3 separate regions of the Homo sapiens genome follow, and regions 1 and 2 are each linked to region 3. A link means that fine-mapping ties the variant in region 3 to the plasma level of a protein whose gene starts in the linked region. Region 3 holds a variant in brackets. A gene starts in each other region. All regions are shown on their reverse strands.

Evidence for each region. PIP is the chance, under the fine-mapping model, that this variant and not a neighbour inherited with it causes the effect. The UK Biobank Pharma Proteomics Project read protein levels with antibody pairs (Olink). The fine-mapping took linkage between variants from a reference panel, not from the people measured, so its PIPs are less certain.
Region 1: it holds the start of PAPPA, and the variant in region 3 is fine-mapped to the plasma level of the PAPPA protein (UK Biobank, PIP 0.98).
Region 2: TFRC starts here. The variant in region 3 is fine-mapped to the plasma level of the TFRC protein (UK Biobank, PIP 0.92).

What each region holds. Positions count from the first base shown.
Region 1 is chr9:116,151,188-116,156,384 of GRCh38, reverse strand. PAPPA (pappalysin 1) reads right to left here and starts at 2,594. Exons shown (of 22, transcript NM_002581.5): 1 at 1,798-2,594. The coding sequence starts at 2,212. RefSeq lists a silencer at 728-817.
Region 2 is chr3:196,079,450-196,084,668 of GRCh38, reverse strand. It overlaps TFRC (transferrin receptor), which reads left to right and starts at 2,579. Exons shown (of 19, transcript NM_001128148.3): 1 at 2,579-2,626. RefSeq lists silencers at 2,257-2,596, 2,647-2,946 and an enhancer at 3,828-4,327.
Region 3 is chr16:88,498,487-88,503,705 of GRCh38, reverse strand. The region is part of intron 3 of ZFPM1 (zinc finger protein, FOG family member 1); the gene reads right to left. Among named protein-coding and RNA genes, the nearest start is that of ZFPM1-AS1, 30 kb to the left of the region's middle. The variant G/A (reference allele first, on the strand shown) is at 2,781.

The DNA of each region.
Region 1 (5,197 bases), not on the chromosome of region 3:
TCCTGTGGAATCCCAGGTGTTATATATATATATATACATATATATATATACACATATATATATACACACATATATATACATGTATATATATATATACACACACACACACGTATTTATGTAGACACACTTACATAGTTAAAATGCATTCACTACCCTTTCACTGATGATGCCTGCATAACCCTGTGCTCTCCTCTCTCCAGGGAATGCCTTCCAAATCACTGGTACTAGGTAAAGACTAGGAAAAACCAGACCTACAGATTAAAAAAAAAAAAAAATCACCTCCAAGCAGCAGTCTCTTTGCTTTTTCACATGTTTGGAAAGAGAAGTCAACATACTACAGCTCTAAATTATCACCATCGTCATTATTATTATGGATAACGTTTCCTCTGTTCCAAATTAGACCCTCCTCTGGGCAAATAGGGCTTGCGAGTTAAAAGTGAATGAGTTCAGTCTCCTTCTTCTTCCCGGAGGAAAAAAAAAAAGGAAAAATAGCATGCGATGACGTCAGTTGTGGGTTGTTGGGGGGAATCACTGTATCGCTCTCCTTTGATAGCTGGAAAGCGGGGGCTTCGGGAGACGTATTCTTGGGATAGCAGCAGAGTGTGGGTCTCCTAAAGGGGTCTTCATGTCAACTGGATAGTCAGTGCTACATCTGTGAAAGTCCAAGCCATGGAAAGACAGGAAGAAGCAGAACTGCCCGGAGAGCTCACAGCTTTCCCTTCTAAGAAAGTGTGTGTGTGAGGGGGTGGGATCGCAAAACGCCTTCACACGTTTCCTGGCTGCAGTGAAGGGGGAACCCCTACTCTCACTTTAAGACGTCCCAGGACATGGCAAGATTGTTTGTGCAGAAAGGGAATCTCCCAGACAGAAAAGGCAAAACTTTCCTCCTCTCTTCCAGCGCCGCCCCCACCTCCGCTCCCCAGTTTTATTAAAGGCATTTCCACAGATTCATTTAGAGGGGGGAAAATGGATGCTGGAGCATTTCTAAGGTTTGCAATCCTCGCAAAGTGTCCGATTTCACTATAGGCTTTGCTGTGGAACAGCGAAGGGGAGAGAGAGGGAGGTTGAGGAGGGAGAACTCAAATTCATTACGGGCTCATAAAGTCCCATATGAGAAAAGCGCCCCGTTTCGCAGCCGCGTCTGGGGAACGCTGGCGGGGTATGCGTTAGGAAGGTCTCGTCCCAGCCCCGAGTGACAGGCAATGGGCTTTAAAAGCTAGGACATGGGATGGCGTGGAGGGGGTGAGGGTGAGTCCCAGAGGCAGGCTTCAATCAGTGAGCAACTTTGGGGCACTTCGAGGACTTCTAAGTCCTGGCCATTACAACAACCTTGCCCTTGCCGGCTTTCAGGGGAATGGGGCCTAATGAAGGGGAGTTACCTCCATTAAAACGTCAAAGAAATCAACGGTCCCCAAGTCTCCTTTCACATGCATCTCAATTGGGTCATCCTCCCTTTCATCCCAAAAGGAGAGAGTGCATCTGACCATTCGGAGCACGGGTTACGTGCCCTAGGCTCCGGGAACCAGCCCTCACTGGCCGAGGGTCCGCGGGGCCGCCAGGAGGGCTCCCCAGGTTCCTCCCAGGGATGGAGCAGCTACGCCTTCCGAGTGTGCCCATTCCACCGATGGAGCAAAGTGAGGCTCTCAGCTCGCCCGGATGTCTCTGCGCCGCTCGCGGGGCAGCTCTCGCACAGACACGCCCGCAAGCCCCCGACCCGCCCGCCACCCGCGCCCAGACACCCGCGAGCCTCTGGGGCCGCAGGGACGGTGCAGCGCCCGCCGAGGCGCCCTCACCTACCTGTGATCACTGCCGGAGACCTCTGGCCCCCCTCCGCTCGCAGCCACACTTGCAGCGTGAACGCGTCCCGGGGCAGCTCGAGGTCGGCCCGGAGGCGCAGCTGCTCGCCTCGCCCGCTGAAATAGAGCGCCCGGCTCGGCGGGCTCGGCTCCTCGGTGGCGCCCCTCGCCTCCCGCTGCTGCCGCCGCCGGGGGACGCGCACGGCTTCCCAGGCACCGCCCGGCGGCGGCGGCGGCGGCGGCGAGGCGCGGCGGCCGCGGGCCGCCCGGGTGGCGCAGGTGGCCGGGCCGGCGGCGGGGCGCGGGGGTCGGCCGGCCCGCGGGTCTCTCCGGGCCCGGCGGGGACGCTCGGCCAGCCCGCAGCCCAGCGCGGCGCTCAGCAGCCCCAGGTGCAGCACCCAACTCCAGAGCCGCATGTCCGACGGTTCCCCCCGCCCCCCCTTCGCCCCTGCACCGCCACCCGGAGCTGCCAGCTTTGGGAGCCTCGGCGCCTCGACTTTCTTCGCTTCTTCACCCTTCTTGGGCGAGCCCCCCTTTCCACTTGCTTTTTTCTTTTCTTTCTCGCTTTCCTCCTCAAGGTGTGTGCTCCACTCTCCCCACCTTTGAAAAATACAGCCCAACTCCTCCTGGTTGGCAATTAATTTCTCTCCCCGCTCCTTTATCTGCCTTATTTTTCCCCTAACAGCTGGTTGCCTTCCTCCTTGTTTTATTTCATTTTATTTTATATGATTTCTCGCTCCAAAAAAAAGCTCCTCTTAAGACTGATCCGCTGAATTCCCTCCCCCCAAAAGATGCTCTAATTTATTTATTTTTTGCGTCCTTTATAACACAAGCCACAGCCCCCTTCTCCCCCCCCAAGTCCCCCCTCCCCTCCCTCCTTCTTCTCAAAATGAAAGGAAAGAGGGGGAAAAAATCCCTCAGAAGATGAGTAAACAAGCGTATGCTAATCTGCTCCCCAGCGCTCCACCTTCCCAATTGAATGAGTCCCTGTTAAAACTGCGGGGATCATGACTAATCAATCAGTTTGGAGAGGCCGAGCTATCCAGCTTTCCTTCACTTTGCCTTTTGCCTCCTTTCCTTCGCTCCCGCTTCTCCACCACCCCCTCCTTTTCTCTCTCTCTCTCTCTCTCTTTTTTTTTTTTTTTTTTTAAGGAGACAATCTTAAAGTAACAATTTAATGAAATTCTGTACACACCCCCTTACGGTCCTCCCAGCTCTCATTCCTGCTCAAAACACACATTCCTGTTTTTGTTTTGTTTTGCTTGCTTTTTTTCCCTCCCTCACTCCCCCCACTTATTATTATTATTTCTGATGGCAGGAGAAAAATCTGTCTCTTCTCTTAGGATCCCCTTTGCACTTTGCTGGTAAACCTCATCCTTTTCTGTAGCACATAAAGAGTCTTGAAACTTGATTCTTAGATTTTTTTTTTTAATTCTCTCTCTCTGTCTCTCCCTCCCTCCCTCTCCCTCTCTTTCTCTTTTTCTCACTCTCTCCCTTACTCTTCTTCCCGCTTCCTCTCCCTTTACCTCTTTCCCTCTTCTTTTCCCTGTCCTTTTCCCTCTCAGAATTTCCTTAAAGTTGTACGATGATGAACCATTCCCCTCTTTTCTGAGCCCCCAGATAAGGCTGGCTTCAGCTAACCCAAATGTTTCCAAAGTTCTTATGGAATCATCAGAAGAAAATAGAAGAAAGGCACTGTCCAGGACATCTGCCTTTCAGAAGCTGTAGTCCTAGTACAACTGGGTCTCTGAATTTCCCCGAATACTCTTTAAAATACTCTGTTGGTCATTAGAAATTATTTTAATTTTATAAGAAGAAAATGAGAGAAAAATATTAATTTGCCTAATGTTTTCAACTTAAGCAATTCAGGTCCTCTGAAATTGTTAAAGTCACAGGTAAGGATCTGACCATTTGCTGCTTTGTAGGTCTGTTTTTGAACTGGGACATACATGTAATATATTTTTTTCTTCTTTTTTCCCCCTCTTTATAGAACTCAAAAGCTCCCCCTTATGGCAAAACAGATCTTCTTTTATTTTGTCCAAGTGTTTAATAAGTCAAAACATGTTAGCAATGGTGGATTACAAGCTATTAATTACCAATCTATTCCAATAAGGTAGTGATAAAAATATTCTGTGTGAAGTTTGCATGTGAATAGCGTGCTGAAAGTCTGCGATAAAATTAACTCCACTAAATTGTAACTTTCTTCTTCAATTGCTCTTATCTTCCGAGCTGCTCCAGATCTTTCTTGAGAGCTAGGAACATTGCTACACGCTTCAGGAAGAGAGAAAACCAAGGAAGAATGTTTGTTGGCAAAAGTATGACGATTTGTCGGATGAGCAAATGACTCAGACATCCCCTCTATGAAAGCTGGAATGCGATATATGCAAAGATTATGGAAGCTTTCTGAAAATGGGAGATCTCAGATTCATACCTTCCTAGTTTAGAAAGAAGTTGCTGAATAGTCTTAGACTAAGAACGTTTGAACTCTGTTTCTGTAGTCATAAAATGAAAATAGCACAATACCCTAAATGTGTTTCCAGAGACTGGCTGGAGGAAAGAAAATCTTGGGTGCACAATGTCATGAATAAAGAATTTGCCTAAGCAAATCTTTGACTTTTTGCAACTCCAAGTCATCTGTAAAAGGTTGCCATTGGATAAAAAGAGAGCTATGTTGAACAACATAAATTGTATCATTCAAAATCCCCCTTCCTCTCCAATAGAGGTTGGACCATGACTACTGATTTACTTCAGTTGTGGCAATTAGGCATTTAGAAACTGCATGTCTTCCAGGGGGATTTTAAGTCATTGTATACAATAATTTTGAATATTCCTAGACAACTGGGAATTATTCAATTCTCAGACCAGCAGTGGGAGCACAAGATTTTTACTTCTCATTTCCTACTCCCTCCAACACATATCAGTTCACTGGCCTTGAGTAAGACACTTCATTTCTCTTCCCTTCCACTTCCTTACCTTTAAAATGGGAATATCTACTTGGCAAATTTATTTTGAGGACAAGATATGCTCTGGGGTATAATCTTTTGTAAACAATAAAAATGATATACGAATACCATTTGTTCTATTGTTGTTGTCAAAGACAAAGTGCTCCTCAGGTTCTTAAAGACAAACAAGAATTGAGGAGGCCAAGTTATTTCTCTCCTGTAGGAGGCAGGAAAACGAAGGGACAACGAAGTTCATGTCTTATGGGTCCTTGAACTCCTTGATCTCCGTCCTCAAATGCACTGGGATCATTTGGCAAGACATTTCACTCATCCATTCATTGAACATACATTTACTATTTGTTTCCATCTGTCTTGGAAGCCATTCTAACTCTTTATGCATATATGTATGTATGTATTTGCTTGTTTTTAATTGAGTGCATAAAATTAGATGAAATTTAA
Region 2 (5,219 bases), not on the chromosome of region 3:
GGGTGACAGAGTAAGACTGTTTAAAAATAAATAAATAAATAGTAAAAGTGTTAATAAGTGGACTTTAATTGCAGTGTCTATTAATACTAATAACAGCATAAAAATAAAAATATAATTGATAGCCTCTTTAGTGTCACGTTTATGGTTTTATTTTAGTGAATATAAATTTTTGAGATTTGAATTTTCATGTCCAAATGGTCCTGGCCTCTAAATGTCTCCTAAACATATTTTTCTTTCTTTTCTTTTCTTTCTTTCTTTCTTTTTTTTTTTTTTTTTTGAGACAGAGTCTTGCTCTGCTGCCCAGGCTGAAGGGCAGTGGTGTGATCTCAGCTCACTGCAGCCACCCCCCTCCCGGGTTCAAACGATTCTCCTGCCTCAGCCTCTGGAGTAGCTGGGACTACAGGTGTGCGCCACCACGCCAGACTAAATTTTGTATTTTTAGTTGTGATGGGGTTTTATCATGCTGGCCAGGCTGGTCTTGAACTCCTGACCTCAGAAGATCCACCTGCCTCAGTCTCCCAAAGTGTTGGGATTACAGGGATTAGCCATCGCATCTGGCCACCTAAACCTATGTCCTCCATGAGGCTATAAGATTTTCACCTGCAAATACCAGCATTGTTTGTTTCTTTTTAAAAGATACTTCAGTCAAGGAAAGGCAGAAAGCCAGGCATGTTAGCTCATGCCTATAATCCCAGCACTTTGGGAGACCGGAGGCAGGAGGATTGTTTGAGCCCAGGAGTTCAAGACTAGTCTGGGCTACATAGCAAACCCTGCGTCAAATTAAAAATAAAAAATAAATAGGCTGGGCATGGTGGCTCATGCCTGTTATCCCAACATTTTAGGAGGCCAAGGTGGGCAGATCACCTGAGGTCAGGAATTCGAGACAAGCCTGGCCAACATGATAAAATCCCGTCACTCCTCAAAATACAAAAATTAGCCTGGCATGGTGGCACACACCTGTAGTCCCAGCTACTTGGGAGGCTGAGGCAGGAGAATCGCTTGAATCCGGAGGCAGAGGTTGCAGTGAGCCCGAGATCATGCCACTGTACTCCAGCCAGGGTGACAGAGCAAGACACTGTCTTAAAAGTAAAAATAATAAAAATAAATAAAATTAATAATTAAAGAAATAAAGAAGGAACACCACAGGGGAGCAGGCCTGGTGTCTGAATGTTAAGGTAGGCCCTCTGTGGATGTGCATCCTTAACCTTTTCCTGATTAGATCATTAAAGGTGCAGCAATGCTCCTGCTCATATGACTTTTTTTTTTTTTTGAGATGGAATCTTGCTCTGTCGCCCAGGTTGGAGTGCAATGGCGCGATCTTGGCTCACTGCAACCTCCGCCTCTTGGGTTCAAGCGATTCTTCTGCCTCAGCCTCCTGAGTAGCTGGGATTACAGGCGCGTGCCACTATGCCTGGCTAATTTTTTTTGAAATTTTTTTAGTAGAGATGGGGTTTCACCATATTGGTCAGGCTGGTCTCGAACTCCAGACCTCGTGATCCGCTCACCTCGGCCTCCCAAAGTGTTAGGATTGCAGGCGTGAGCCACCGCGCCTGGCAACTCATATGACTTTTAAACACTTCTCTTTGGGGAGAGAGATTTTAGAGAATGGGAGTAAAGAGAAAGGCGGTGAGAATCCCAAGTACTTTCTCTATCTTAGAGCAGAAGAAATAAAGGGAAGAGTAAAAGCCCAAGGCCCAGAAACGGATTTGCTTCTTAAAGGGCTGTTCTGTGTCCCTACGGGCCTGAAGGTCAGTTTATGTGCAATGCTTTTTAAGGTATGGGTTGCTTTCTTGCATTGTAGCTACTACCTCCCTGGCCTGCTGGTTACTGACCAGAGGGAGGGAGAGGGTGTGATTGTTTGGAAAGAGTTTAAACAGTGACAAGAATTGAATTTTATTTATTTGTTATTCATTGCACAATCCAATAACAGCGATGGCAATGAAAACGAAAGTTAATCTACAATCCTATCACCCTATTAAGTCACTTGTTTCTATTTTCCCTTTTATTCCCTCATGCATTAAACATTACGCAAAGCACTCCGCTAGTCTTGGTTAAAGTGCAGCTTGTATACATTCTGAATAAAAATTTGCATTTTGCTTTTCTTTTCCTTTTTGTATTTCTGAGGCTGCAAAATACATCTTCACAAGAGTGGCTTTAATAGTTACCTAACATTCCATCCTGCACGTACATTTCAAGGCACTGCCGCAGTGCAATATCCAACATTTAAGCGTCAACGCCAACAGATTGGACCTAGCACTGCAGGGACTGGAGGTTGGTCAAGGTCAGGCGGAGGCTGCCAGGCTACCAGGGTGGAGGAAGGCGCCGAGGCAGAGGCCAGTGCGCCCATCGCGCGGCTCCTCGGGGCACCTGCTGCCTTGGCGCCTTTTCCCTTGGCCTTCGCCTCGCCCGCAGCGCCCTCCGCATAGGGCCCCGCCCGCTGCGCGCGCATCCCCGCCCCCCGGGCGATCTGTCAGAGCACCTCGCGAGCGTACGTGCCTCAGGAAGTGACGCACAGCCCCCCTGGGGGCCGGGGGCGGGGCCAGGCTATAAACCGCCGGTTAGGGGCCGCCATCCCCTCAGAGCGTCGGGATATCGGGTGGCGGCTCGGGACGGAGGACGCGCTAGTGTGAGTGCGGGCTTCTAGAACTACACCGACCCTCGTGTCCTCCCTTCATCCTGCGGGGCTGGCTGGAGCGGCCGCTCCGGTGCTGTCCAGCAGCCATAGGGAGCCGCACGGGGAGCGGGAAAGCGGTCGCGGCCCCAGGCGGGGCGGCCGGGATGGAGCGGGGCCGCGAGCCTGTGGGGAAGGGGCTGTGGCGGCGCCTCGAGCGGCTGCAGGTACACGGGGTCGGCGGCTGTGCGCAGAGGCGTCCCTGCGCCTCTCGTCCCTTCGCCTCTCGTCCCTTCCCTTCTCTCTGCCTTCTTGCCCGCCTCCTCGGTCACAGAGCGACGAATGACGAGACCAGGTGTACCCCCACTGTCGCTCTCAGCCCCGGGGACTTCGGGTCCTCGCCCTTGAAGGCCGCAGGCCCTAGTGCGCCGGCTCCGGGCTGCGGGTCCGGGAGCGCGGGCGCAGCCAAGGTGCAGCTGCGCGGCGTGCGGCGCCGGGGGAACACGTGGCTGCTCCAGGAAGTCGCCCCAGGGAACGGCTGGGATTCGTGGGTGACCTTGGGCTCCTAAACCTTCGGTTCCCCGGGCTCCGGGCGGGCCCCGTTCTCACTGCGGAAAGGGACAAAGCTGTCCCCGATTCGGTTACTAGCGTGTTACAGGCATTAATTAGATACGGGTTTCTGTAAACTTACCCTTCGGCTCTGGTACAACCTGATCTTGCCATGCTCTGCCTGTTCGCCTTGTGTGTGGATTCTGTTTTCTCAAGGCAGAATCCGACTGAACGCCGCAGGTGTTCACATTAAGAATATTGCTAGCAGTTCTCACTACAAGACGGGAGCCATAGGAGTGACTTATTTGTGAAAGATACTTGGAGATTAGCGGTGTGGTCAGAGGGCTGTGCTGGATTGATGGGCGCCGGAGAGGCCGATTGTGTCACATTCTGCTGGACAGTTCTTTTAAGGTTGGGAGGGTGGGTAAGAAAATACATTCTGATTCGGCTCTTTTCGGATAACGCTTTCCCTCTGCTTACTGCTTGTAGAGACCTCACTTACCCGGGGGACTGGATTCTGCAGCTTTTTCCATTTTCTTCCCCGTTGATAAGAGGATTAAAGTAGGAAATTGTATTTGGCTACCCCATGCTTATATGCTAAGCTTACTGTGAAAATTAAGGTTAGGCTGTCTAGAGTACTTGTGGACCCTGCTGGTTCCCCCCGCCCCCCGGCCCTGAATTTTGGGTTACAATATGCTTCTCAAGAAAACTCAGAGTTAAGATAATTTTTGTCATCGATTTTGCAAGGTTATATATAGCATAGCATCCTTCAATTTCCTTTGGATGTTCTTATCAAGTAATGGTGGCTGTAAACCTAGCCTGTGTTGAAGATTGTTAGATAGACAGCAGTTTGGCTAACTCCGCCCTAAGGCGAGGCAGTTACTTGCCTCTGATAATGTATTTAAATGTCATGGAGCAAGATTCCCAGCTAAACCTGAATCGATCACAATGCTAGTTAAAAATGACCCTCGGCTGGGCGCATTGGCTCCCGCCTGTAATCCCAGCACTTTGGGAGGCCAAGGCAGGCGGATCACCTAAGGTCAGGAGTTCGAGTCCAGTCTGACTAACATGGTGAAATCCTGTCTCTACTAAAAACACAAAAATTAGCCGGGCATGGTGGCTCACGTCTGTAATTCCAGCACTTTGGGAGGCCGAGGCAGGTGGATCACTTGTGGTGAGGAGTTCGAGACTAGCCTGGCCAACATGGTGAAACCCCGTCTCTACGAAAAATACAAAAATTAGCTGGGCATGGTGGTGCACACCTGTAATCCCAGCCACTCAGGAGGCTGAGGCTCGAGAGTCGCTTTAACCTGGGAGGCAGAGGTTGTAGTGAGCTGAGATCGTGCTACTGCACTCCAGCCTGCGCGACAGCGAGATGCCATCTCAAAAACAACAACAAAAAAACTCCCTACTAAACCAGAAGAGTGATGGGGACGGGAAAAGATTCCTGGTCCAATGTTTTCATTATATTTTTCATATCATTTGGAATCTCATGCATCAGGCATGCCCCAGTACTGTTAAAGACAATATTTTTACTCATTATCAGGTAGTTCAATACCAGTTATTACAGGATAGGGAAGTCAGTCAGAGAAGGCTTCATAGAGATGAAGCCTTGAGCTGAGCCTGGAAGAAATGAGGAGGACCTCAAGGAACAGAGAAGAATGTTGGTGGGTAAAAACAGGGGCTGGATTCTGTCTGATTTTGGAGAAAATAGAGGGTAGTGAAGTTGTTAGGCAGTGAATGTGTTCCATTTCATGGTTCAAAACGTGGGGCTACGTTTTGCCTACCTGAGCTTCATTATTAATGTGAGAAATTGAATTGTTGTTTTCAGTCACCATTGAGAACACCAAAGATAACACAAGTAGCTTAGATTATTATTTATTTATTTATTTTTGACAGAGTTTCACGCTTGTTGCCCAGGCTGTAGTGCAATGGTGTGATCTCGGCTCCCTGCAACCTCCACCTCCCCCAGGTTCAAGTGATTCTCCTGCCTCAGCCTCCCCAGTAGCTGGGATTACAGGCATGCGCCACCATGCCCGGCTAATTTTGTATTTTTTTG
Region 3 (5,219 bases):
CTCTTCTAAAAGTCACGTGTGATTTTATGGGAAGCCACAGAGGGTGCTGCCATGGCACCGATCACCCCAACACAGATGAGAAGACCGAGGTCAGAGAGGACCTGGCTCCACAGAGAGGCAGCTGGCTGTGAGTCAGATGCAGGCCAGGCAGAGGGTGGGAAAGACCAGGAAGCAGGAGGAGCCCTGGAGGCAGAACAGGCCGGCCCCTCCCCAGACACAGATCCCTCCACTCAGGAACCGTGGGCCCCCCAGACACAGATCCCTCCACTCCGGAACCGTGGGCCCCCCAGACACAGATCCCTGCACTCAGGAACCGTGGCCCCCCAGACACAGATCCCTCCACTCAGGAACCGTGGGCCCCCCAGACACAGATCCCTCCACTCAGGAACCGTGGGCCCCTCCCCAGACACAGATCCCTCCACTCAGGAACCGTGGGCCCCCCAGACACAGATCCCTCCACTCAGGAACCGTGGGCCCCTCCCCAGACACAGATCCCTCCACTCAGGAACCGTGGCCCCCCAGACACAGCTCCCTCCCCTGTGCCGCTGCTCAGGACCCACGGGGGTCCCCACTGGCCCCTGAATCAAGCACTGTGCTACAGTGGGGGTTCCTGTCCCAGGGGCGCCGTGCTCATCCACCCACCCTGCCCCGCGGAGCAGCGCCCCTGCCACCTCCCACCTGCCGAAGAGACCGCACACAGCCTTCCAGCCCTGAGGGGCCTTCATGGCTGGTGGGGTTGGAGGAACGACAGCTAAAGGCGGGTGGGGGTGGCGAGCGCTCTGAGGGCAGCCCCGGATCTGCCGTCCGGCCACCGTGTGTGCAGAGACCCACAAACGGGCATCCACGTGGCCTCTGCTGCCCTTAGAACATCCTTCTCTGGAAGAAACGTGGCAAGACAGCAAAAATTTAAAAAAATAAATGGCTTGCCATCTTTGACATGCTGACCTGAGCCCGCCCATGCCGGGATGATTTTTCTGGGATAAATTCCCAGGAGCCAACTGCTGAGTCAAGGGAAGCAGCAGCTGCTGGCGCTGGGGCAGCCCGGACCGGGTGGCTCCGACCTGCGAGGTGGGGACCCTCGGCTAGGGGGGGTCACCAAGGCCACTGCCTCCAGCAGCACTGGACGGGAAGGGACAGTGGGGCTCTGGGAGGCTGGGGACAAGCCCAAGACCTACAGTGACTCCAGGGTGGATCCAGATGGGAACCTGGGGCCAAAGACCCTGTCCATGGCCCCGGGCGGCCCACAGGGCACAGGGACGGGGTTGGGGGACATGGAGGGGCAAGCACAGAGGCGTCAGGCCTATGGGGCAGAGGTGGGTCCTGAGTGCCCGGCGCCCGGGCCCCTGGGCAGGGCGGGAGAGGGCGGGGGGCCGGGGTGGGAGGCACCCTCACGAGACGCAATAAACCCGAGATAGCATCTTGCCGCATCTCAGGCCCTGCTCGGCCCTTTCGGGCAGGATATGACCAGCCCTCGAGCCGATGGCGGCCCCTTTGTCCCATCTCCGGGGACCGATCTTATCAGCTGCGTCCACGGCCGCTGTAATGGAAAAGCGCAGTGAGGAAATAAAAAGTTACACGCAGAGAAGGAGGAGAGATAAATAAATAAATAAATAAATAAATAAATAAATAAATAAATAAATGGGGGGGGGCGGGTGGAGCCGCGTCGGGGGTGGAGGAGCTACTAGGAGTGTTAAACCATGGGTTGGGGCGTTTGCAGGGCTGGGGTCAGGAGGTCAGGGCTCACCGGCCTGGTCTCCACCTCGGATGAACCACGTGAACTCACTGGGCCTCAGTTTGCTCATCGGCCCAGGAGCCCCCTCGCGGGCTGGGGTTGATCCCATGGCAAACAGCAGTGGCAGGAGGGCCCTGCACCCACGCCCACTACCTCCATCACCAGCACCAGCGGCAGGGCCCTGCACCCATGCCCGCTATCTCCATTATCATCAGCACCAGCGGGAGGGCCCGGCACCCACACCCGTTACCTCCATCATCAAGAGCACCTGCGGGAGAGGCCCTGCACCCACACCCGCTATCTCTATCATCACCAGCACCTGCGCGATGGCCCACGCACCCAGGCCCACTATCTCCATCATCACCAGTACCTGCGGGAGAGCCCATGCACCCACACCCGCTATCTCCATCATCACCAGCACCTGCGGGATGGCCCACGCACCCATGTCTGCTATCTCTATCATCACCAGCACCTGCGGGAGGGCCCACGCACCCATGTCTGCTATCTCTATCATCACCAGCACCTGCGGGATGGCCCCCGCATCCATGTCTGCTATCTCCATCATCACCAGCACCTGCGGGAGGGCCCCGCACCCATGTCTGCTATCTCCATCATCACCAGCACCTGCGGGAGGGCCCCGCACCCATGTCTGCTATCTCCATCATCACCAGCACCTGCGGGAGGGCCCCCGCACCCAGGCCCACTATCTCCATCATCACCAGTACCTGCGGGAGAGCCCATGCACCCACACCCGCTATCTCCATCATCACCAGCACCTGCGGGAGGGCCCCCGCACCCATGTCTGCTATCTCCATCATCACCAGCACCTGCGGGATGGCCCCCGCATCCATGTCTGCTATCTCCATCATCACCAGCACCTGCGGGAGGGCCCCCGCATCCATGACCGCTACCTCCATCACCAGCAGTGGTGTCTCAGTTTCCCTCCTGGGCAGGAGGAGGTGGAGAAGTCAGGCCAGTGTGGGGAGGGGCCAGCCTTAGAGACCCTGACATATCCCCAGCCAAGGCTGCACCCCCACAGGGAGGGCCC[G/A]CTGTACCTGTCGGTCAGGTGAGGACACCGAGGTGCCGTCTAGGGACCCAGCACTGTGCCCAGGACCTGGCTCAGCCCAGGGTGGCCAAGATCCGAGCTGACCACGCAGACTTGCTGGGAAAGAGAAACTGTGGGCCCTGCCCTGCCCCAGCAGCCCCAGGGAGCCTGAACTGTCCTGTCCACGTCTCACAGATGAGGACCCTGAGCCCAGAACAGGGCACAACAGGCCCCAGGTCTGCGGTGAGAGAGGTGACACCTGGAAGCTGAGTCTGCCGTTGTGCCAGCGGGAGGGTTGGTGCCAGTAACGGCAACAGCACTGCTGGCAGCAACAGTCCTAGCAAGGTGACAGAATGACCCAGAGTGACAGCGACAGCACCAGCAAGGTGACAGCGGCCAGGCCAGCAGCAGCACTCTCTAATAGCGCTGTTTCTGTGCTAGTGACAGTCACGGTGCCCACGCTGGTGGTGACACGGGTGTAGTGGTGGGAACAAGGGCAGCTGGGGCAGCAGCTGCCAGCGACACGCTTGTGGCTTGCCCAGCGCCTGCCCACTGTCCCAAGGGTCCTCCCAAGAGCGCCCTGTGGCCGTCTTCCTGACGAGGCCACCAGCTCATGGGGGGAGCTGGCTGTGTCCCCGGCCATGCGGCAGGCCCAGGAGGGGCAAGGAGGGAAGCTTCTGGGCAGTAGCCGGGGCTCCAGGGGCTCGCCCAGGTGACTCTGGTGGGCCTGCCCCCGAGATGTCTGGGAGGGGCCGGTAGGGCAACGGCGGGGCCTGGGTGGGGGCTGGTGGTGGGGGATGGCCGGGGCAGGAAGCCGGGTGGGAGGGCGGAGGAGGAAGCCAGCTTGATTAGCGCCTGCGGCCGAGATAGGCTGCCCTGGCCACAGATAGCCTCTCCCGGAAGGTGGTGAGGCCAGAGGGCAGCACGGCAGGCAGCCAGGCCCGGCCCCCGCCCCCCAACCACCAGGATGGCTGGAGACCCAGGGCTCCGGCTGCGCTCCTCATGGGGCATCCACTGTCCGCTCACCCTCTGCTGGCATGGGGCCGAGGAGGGGCCGGGGAGCCCACGGGACTTGGGGGCTGGACCCGGAGAGGCTGGATGGGTGGGCCTGGGCCCTTCCCTGGGAGGCAGGCCTGTGGGCTCTGTGCCCACTCGGCCCCTCCCCAGCATGGGGGTGGGGTGGCTACCTCACCTCTCCTGGCCTCAGTTTCCCATCTGTGAATGGGGACACTGCCCACTTCAGCCAAGCCCTTTCTCAGATCTCCCTCTGTCTGCCCCTGAGCCGTCCTCCACCCAGCCAGCGGGATTCAGGGGCCACCCAGGTGGGGTCCCCCACACTGCACGCAGACCTGCTCCGTGTCCAGCCTGCTAGGCACCAGGCTCCGCCCTGTCCACGTGCGCGGTCCTGCCTGCCCCCTGGCCCCTTCGCTGCTCCCAAAGTCAGCTGGGCCGGCCCCACCCCAGGCCTCTGTACCCGGCTTCCTCTGCCCTGGCCTGCGTCTCCCACCCGCTGCGCGGCCCCCACGACTGCTCTCTTCTCCTCCGCGGCTGCTCTGGAGGAGGTCTGTTTTCCTCACGCTGCATCCCCCTGTCTATCACAGGGCTGGCACATAGCTTGTGCTCAATAAATGGAAGTACAAGGGAGTGAGTGAGTGCCGGCTCTGCCTGCGATTTCGGGACTTCGAGGCCCAGGTGACTTTCCCGGGGTGGAGGCTGAAGTCAGGGCCAGGTTCAGGAGGCGGCTTCTGTATGGCCAGGGCTGGGGTGGGTGCGGGAGGTCAGCCAGGCCCCAGGGTGCCGGCAGCCTGGTCATGGGGGAGCCACGGGGGCCGTTGGGGAGCTGGGGATGAAGGAAGGGGAGCCGGCCTCGGGGGCTGCAGATGGCTCTGGCCCCAAGCTCAACCCTGTCCAGGGGCTCCGCCCACAGGGCCTTGCGTGGAGAGGCAGGCCTGGGGTCTGGTGGTGCAGGCAGGACCCGGGTGCAGCCCCCACCCAGGCCTGGGGCCAGTGCTTGGGAGAGGGGAGGGAAGGGTGTCATGGGAAGGCTCAGGGCCAGGGGCAGCCAAGGTGTCCACGCCAACGACCCAGGGTCAGGCCAGCCAGAGCCTGCGACCTCTGAACTCAGTTTCCAAGATAACCACCCTCTGCAGCCGCAGGCCCAATGTGATGGGGCCTCAGGCTCTGAGCTGACTGCTGCCTCACCCCTGCGATCACTCCAGATTAGAGGGGTGCCCCCGGCTCCGGGACTGCGCCCTCGGCCTGGGACACCGTTTCCAGACGCCCCTCGTTCATTTGGAACTCAAACGTCGGCTCAGCGAGGCCGGCTCTGCCTGCCCCTCGGACATGTGGGGTTCCTACCTCGTCATGATTTGGGGTGTCTCCCTCACCAAGGAGCAGATCCCGGAGGGCCTGGGCTATGCTGGCCTGAGCACGTCCCTCATA